2 linked regions of the Homo sapiens genome follow. The protein of the gene in region 1 interacts with the protein of each later gene in a pairwise test. Each region holds a gene or a part of one and is shown in the gene's direction. Other genes may lie near its edges.

What was found. The genes of interacting proteins can lie anywhere in the genome.
Region 2: the proteins of SUCLG1 (region 1) and WDR36 interact in a two-hybrid assay, tested with the Homo sapiens proteins (one large-scale study listed by BioGRID).

Annotation. Positions count from the first base shown.
Region 1 is NC_000002.12:84,452,781-84,456,280, reverse strand, and holds part of SUCLG1 (succinate--CoA ligase [ADP/GDP-forming] subunit alpha, mitochondrial precursor), read left to right. Parts: intron 1-3,500. UniProt on the Homo sapiens protein: Succinyl-CoA synthetase functions in the citric acid cycle (TCA), coupling the hydrolysis of succinyl-CoA to the synthesis of either ATP or GTP and thus represents the only step of substrate-level phosphorylation in the TCA.
Region 2 is NC_000005.10:111,112,848-111,116,347, forward strand, and holds part of WDR36 (WD repeat-containing protein 36), read left to right. Parts: intron 1-226; coding exon 227-306; intron 307-3,500. UniProt on the Homo sapiens protein: Part of the small subunit (SSU) processome, first precursor of the small eukaryotic ribosomal subunit.

The DNA of each region.
Region 1 (3,500 bases):
ACCATGTGATAACTTAAGCTTTTTTCGAAGCTCTGATTTTTTTTTGGCAGTCTTAGTGATGTGTTGAGAAGGTGACTATCCTGCTCAAAGGTGTTGCCTTCCTTTTCCCCGTGTTTGCCAAGTGCGTAGGCCTGTTTTTCGAATCAGAGATGCATTTAAAGTGTAGTTTGGAAAATGAGATCCTCAACAGTGATGTTGTGGATATTAGCATCTGTTGCCATTGCATGTAATAACCAAATCTTTATTTCAGAAATACAAAATAGCCTTGATTCAGATGTACCAGTGTAGCCATGAGAAAGTGATTTGATTTTCTGACATCAAATTTGTTTCTCCATAGAAATGTAATTGGGAATATTAAAAATAATTTAAGTACAGGGCAACAATTTCATTTCATCAGGGGACTGGCATACCATAGACCCACATTTTTTTTTTTTTTTTTTGTTTTGAGACGGAGTCTTGCTCTGTCGCCCAGGCTGGAGTGCAGTGGCGTGATCTCTGCTCACTGCAAGCTCCGCCTCCCAGGTTCAAGCCGTTCTCCTGCCTCAGCCTCCCCAGTAGCTGGGACTACAGGCACCCGCCACCACACCTGGCTAATTTTTTTGTATTTTTAGTAGAGATGGGGTTTCACTGTGTTAGCCAGGATGGTCTCGATCTCCTGACATTGTGATCCGCCCACCTCAGCCTCCCAAAGTGCTGGGATTACAGGCGTGATAGACCCACATTTTTTTACATTATAACATTTCTTACATTAGGTTGTGTCTTATTACTGATATATATGTTTTTTTTGAGACAGAGTTTTGCTCTTATTGCTCAGGCTGGAGTGCAATGGCACAATCTCAGCTCACCGCATCCTCTGCCTCCTGGGCTCAAGCCATTCTCCTGCCTCAGCCTCCCGACTAGCTGGGATTACAGGCATGTGCCACCATGTCCGGCTAATTTTGTATTTTTAGTAGAGACGGGGTTTCTCCATGTTGGTCAGGCTGGTCTCAAACTCCTGACCTCAGGTGATCCGCCCGCCTCATTTTTTCTTTTTTACCAGTAATTAATAGTACTTCTTAAAAATCAATGGTGTTTTATATTTGATGAAATATGGTACTTACAGCTTATTAAACTTCACTCGTAAGTCAATATTAAATGAATATATAATTTAACATTTGAATAGTGGGTTGTTTGGAGTTTAGGGGTAAGTGGCTGCTAGCTACTCTGCTGTATTATAAGGTCCTGTAGGTGTAGACTGCAGTAGCCTGTGTCTTACATATGCATAATACATATGGTTAATAAGTGTACATTTGTTAAATTCATGAGTACGTGCACGAATAAATGTTTACCAGGGACACAGTTTGAGAGGTGAGTTGAAGGAGTATTGAGTATTTCATGAATAGAGCCTTGGGTTATTGGTTAGGAGCATGGTACTGGTCATACAAGGCCCATGGTTTGAGTCTCTCCTGGGCAGGTGCTCTTTGACCATAGATTGCATCATTCATCCCACCAGCCATTTTATAAATGATGTGTTACTATCTGTGGTAAAGAGGACCAGTATGTGGCTGACAGGTACAAATCTATCACCCCTGTTGAAAACACATCTCTCTCAGATTACTCAGCCTCTTTCCTTCATTGTCTTTATTACAGTTTGTACTGTTGGTAGTTTTGTTTTTTTTTGTGCAATGTTTAGCTCTTTTACAGGGCAGGAAACTTCATGTGGGTAGGGCCTGAGCCTGTCTTGTTCACCTGTGAATCCCTAGCACCTGACAGATAGCCTGTCACAGTCAACATCTCAAAGCAGTTTGGTCTGCTCATTCTGCATCGGTAATAATAACGCTAATAAAAAGCTCTTAGGGATATAACACTTGCTGTATCTGTTTTAAATGCTTTATATATTACTAACTCATTTAATTCTCACATCAGCCTATGAAGGAGATACTATTATTGTCCGTGTTTTACAGTGAGGGCTGCGCCTTTACAAATGTATTATATGTTAAAAACTTAGAGGTATATTTGTGCATACTGCACATTATATGCAGACATGGATTAGTATGTTTATAAATAAACATATAAGATGTACACAAGGACATGTAGAAAACATTTTTGGCTAGACTTATTTGATTTTAAAATATGAACTATTTTTTCTCTCTTTTTAGGGATAGATTTGCCTTTGTGTTCATGTAGGGTTGTAAACCCAGTTTTGGGAGTGTACCAGAGACTGTGCTACCTGGTGCCAATTTAAGGAGTAATTTCATATTAATATCACAGCCTCCCAGGGGCAGCTGTTATTCCACTTCTAGATGGGAAGACTAAGGCTAAGGGAGATCAAAAGGTATGCTCTGGGTTACATGGCTGCTGGAAGGCAGAGCATAAACTCAAGACCAGGCCTGTCTGATTCCTGCGATGATGTTCTCAGCTGCTCCTGGGACGCAGTCCCAAGGTTAAGCTGGACAATTTCTAAGAATCTGGAAAGAAGGAGGTGGCCTAGGATGTGGCAACTACAGCATTCGCCATCAGAAATTTTTCCTGGTGGCCAACCTCACCTTTCCTGCTCTAATATTTAATTTAAAATACTTATTTTCGGCTGGGCATGGTGGCTCCTGCCTGTAATCCCAGCACTTTGGGAGGCCAAGGCAGGCGGATCACTTGAGGTCAGGAGTTTGAGACCAGCCTGGCCAACATGGTGAAACCCCGTCTCTACTAAAAGTACAAAAAAATTAGCTGGGTGTAGTGATGTGGGCCTATAGTCCCAGATACTCAGGAGGCTGAGGCAGGAGAATTGCTTGAACCCGAGAGGTGGAGGTTGCAGTGAGCCGGGATCGTGCCACTGCACTCCAGCCTGGGCTGCAGAGTAAAACAACGTCTCAAAAAAAATAATAATAATACTTATTTTCTTCTTATTAGTAAAGCTAGGCATCTCATCATATATGGATTTGCAGTTTGTCATCCATTGTGTTTCTTGTTCATGGCCTTTATCAGTTTTTCTCTTAGGCTTTGGGCTCCACTTTTTGTTGGCTCTTCATGTTGCTCACGTTAATTCCTTGTCTGTTAAATGTTAGGAAAACACTCCCCTGGTCTGTCATTGCCTTTAACTCTGCCTATGGTGTGTTTCACTCTGTCTGAATGCTTGCTTTTTTCATGTAGGTAAAGATTCAATTTGTATTATTGCTTTTGGGTTTTATTTATTTAAAAAAATGTCAGCATGGCGTTTGTACTAGATTAATGTAGCTTTGGGGACCGCCAGAAGCATTTTAGGGCCGAACTTCCATGCAGTCTCTATATGAATTTTAGGGAAACCTATGATCTTTATATGTACAAAAATAGATATAGGGTTCTTTTCCCTCTTTGCTGATACGTGGGAGTTCAAGATTGACTTTTTCCAACTCACCGAAAAAGAGACGAACCTTATGGTGTTTAGCTTGGTAGAAGTGTTTCTTTTGGAGACCCTGTTTCTTGTCCTGGAATTCAGTGAAATGTTTCCCATAGACCTACTGTGTGTAAGGCACTGACCATATACC
Region 2 (3,500 bases), on another chromosome or scaffold:
TTCCAAATCAGTGGTATTTAGGAAGTGGTATTTTCTTTTATATAAAATAAGGCAGCCTGAATGTTAGTCAAATTAATTTTTTTATGAAGCCTGCATTATCTTTTCATTTATTACATTCTTTAAGGTGTTAACTATATATACATACACACATACATACAAATATATTCATATATATTTATATATAAATAATATATATATATATATATTTTTTTTTTTTAATTTAAAGGCTTTTAGTCCTGATGGTCGTTGGTTAATAAGTGCTGCGATGGATTGCTCTATTAGGACTTGGGACCTTCCTTCTGGGTGGTAAGTTTATATTTCTAATTCCCTAACCTCTATAAGATTTCTAAGTTATTTTTTTCACATGTGACTTTTACCGATAGTTAATGGGTTATATGCTTTTTCAATGTGACTATATTTGGAGATTTTTCTGACATGACTATATTGTATCCTTGGAGTGTTTTTGATAACTAAACAGCAGGTAGTAGTGTCATGAAACATAATAGAAAAATGAAATCTCTCTTAGGTTTTCTCATCCTGCAAAATTGAGATACAGAAGCGAGATGCCTAAACCTTAAGAAAGCTCATTTGACCTTTTTGATACTCCAAAATAAAGCTCAGACTTAAGGATGGCAAACTTTTGAGTTTTTTTAGTTCATGCTGAATTTAGTTAAAAGGTCAAACCCCCTAACTTTTCCTTTTTGTATGTCTCTTCTGCTTCTCTGACATAATTCTTAAAAGAAGGCATTTTAGATAGTCTTAGTGCATTTTCTGTTGCTTATAACAGAATATTGAAACTTGGTTATTTCTAAAGAAAAGGAGTTTATTTCTTACACTTTGGGGGATTGAGAAGCCCCAGGTCAAAGGGCCATATCTGGTGAGAGCCTTCTTGCTGGTGGAGACTCTGAAGAGTCCCAAGGTGGTATGGAGAATCACAGAGTAAGGGGACTGAGCGTGATAATGTAATAGCTTGAGTCTGTCTTTCTCTTCTTATAAAGCCACCAGTTTCCCTTTCATGATAATCCCTTAATCCATGAATGGGTTAATCCATTAATGAGGACAGAGTCCTCATGATCCAATCACCTCTTAAAGGCACTCCCTCTCAATACCATCACATTGGGGATTAAGTTTAAACATGAGTTTTGGAGGGGACATTCTAACTATATCTTAAAGTGGTGAAAATGTGTGTCTTCGGATTTGGTTAAAACGTAACAAATGTTCAGAAATCTGTTTCATGGGTTGAAATTTGCTGCTAATCCAGGGCTTTAAAGAGAAAGTGGTATGAACAGAGGAGACATACAGAATGTGTCGGCTTTGTTGTTAAAAATTAAGTAGGTATAGATACCATTTAAAATCATCTCATTTAACATAGGATTGCTTAGATGAGTATGAAGAAAGGAAGAATTGTGGGAATAGCAAAACATCTAATTTAACAGTAACATACCATTAGAGAAAGATAGGTGAGAAAAATGAGAAGGAAGGTGGTACTTTTTAATCTAAAATATTCCCAAATTAAGCTCTGTTCACTTCCTCTTCCTACTCAGGAATTGGATAAGCTCATACATGAAAACAGTTTGACCTTTAGGAAGGAAAAACCCTGATGTCCTCAGTTCCCTTCGAGTTCGAAACAGGCCTGAGGCATACCTACCCATCTTGCATATACACTGGATTTGTAGTAAGCACAGCTAACGATTGTCACTAGTGGGTCCAGCTCTAATAATCAGGGACCTTTGTCCACAGGTTTGTCTCTTTCACTTAAAATAGAGTGAAGCAAAATCGAATTTATTGACTGTATCCTCCTCAGGCTTCAGAAAGTTCACTTAAAGTTGGTATTTCTTCAATTAAAAAAACATTTTGTTAAAGACACTATTAGAAATATTAGTGGTCTGTCACTTCTTGGGCTGTTGCTATTTTCTAAAAGTTAATGTTATATAATTTGAATTGCTTTAAAATAAGAAAGTTGTATAAATAGTAGAGTTGGCATAGTGCCTTTTTCATTTTCCTGTTTAATAGTTTTAGTTTATATTAGTGAGAGAGATAGATTATTCAGTAGTAGTAAATTGGCAATGTATTATAAGTGGTAAATTCGTCTTTGGAATGAAAAAATTAGGATCTGAAAGTAGCATTCAAAGCCACTAACCTTTGACTCAGCATTAGCCTTTTGCTGAATTTCTTATATCAGTAAGAAGTTGAACAGATTCAAATCTGATAGATTTTCAGCTCTAGTATCTTTATTTTTAGGTGAACAGGCAATTTTAAGTGAATAGAGAGGCATGAAGCTGGGTGTAGCACAAGAGCAAGAAGTGACCACATCGAATTGTTAAAAGAAAATGTAATAAAATGTACATTGATTGAAGAAAAGTATATTTTTATTAAAGAAAAAAGTTTTGGTTAAAATTTGAAGTGGACCAAATGAGAGAGCTTGAATAACTATCCAACAACTGCTGCTGCTTAATTGCAACTAAGCTAAGATTTACAATGTGCTGCTAGGCACTGTTTATGCTTTTATTTTTCATATCCTAACAAGTTGTAGGTACTATTACTGTTATTAGTCCCATTTCAAAAATGAGGAAGTGGAGGCTATTAGAGAAATTAAGTGATTTGCCCAAGGTGACTTAGTTTATAAATGACAGAGCGCAAAATCAGCACAGGAGAAAGAAATAGCTTTCTTAACACTTATGTTATCATCTTTGCTCAGACTGTGTCTTGTTTTAAGTATGAACTGATTTGCTTGGAAAAAAAAAACATAATTAGTATGACAACCTTTGGAAATTCCTAGTTCTTCTTTCAATTAAATAATTTGAATAATGAAAACAAATTACATAGCCTGGAAAGTGAAGCTATCTATGAGTAAACCCTTGAGTGTATTAACATACAGGTATATCCATCTGGAATTGTGCCTATCTGAAACAAATTGCATGGGTATTAAAGTTTCCTGTAAAGTTTTTTTAAAGTGGTGAAACATTTTTTATGTTTGTAAAATTTTCAGAGGAGCAAAGTTGAAATTTTTTATCTAAAATTATCATTCCTCTGCCACTACCACCACCTTTTATGTCTGGTTGTTTTTGATCTAATAGAAATTCAGATTGAATTCTTTCTTATTTTTTTTTTCTGAGACCAAGTCTTGCTCTGTCGCCCAGGCTAGAGTACAGTGGTACGATCTCGGCTCAGTGCAACCACCGTCTCCCAGGTTCAAGCAATTCTCCTGCCTCAGCTTCCCGAGCAGCTGGGACCACAGGCGTGTGCCACCATGCCTGGCTAATTTTTTTTTTTTGTATTTTTAATGGAGCTGGGGTTTCACCATGTGGCCAGGCTGATCTCAAACTCCTGACCTCAAGTGATCCACCCACCTCAGCCTCCCAAAGTGCTGGGATTACAGCCATGAGCCACGGTGCCCAGCCAGATTGAGTTCTTTGAGGGGTGAGAAATATATAAAATTAAATAATCTTAATAGAATTTTTCATTTGTTCTGTCTCACCCCACCCCTACTTCCTGAGGAG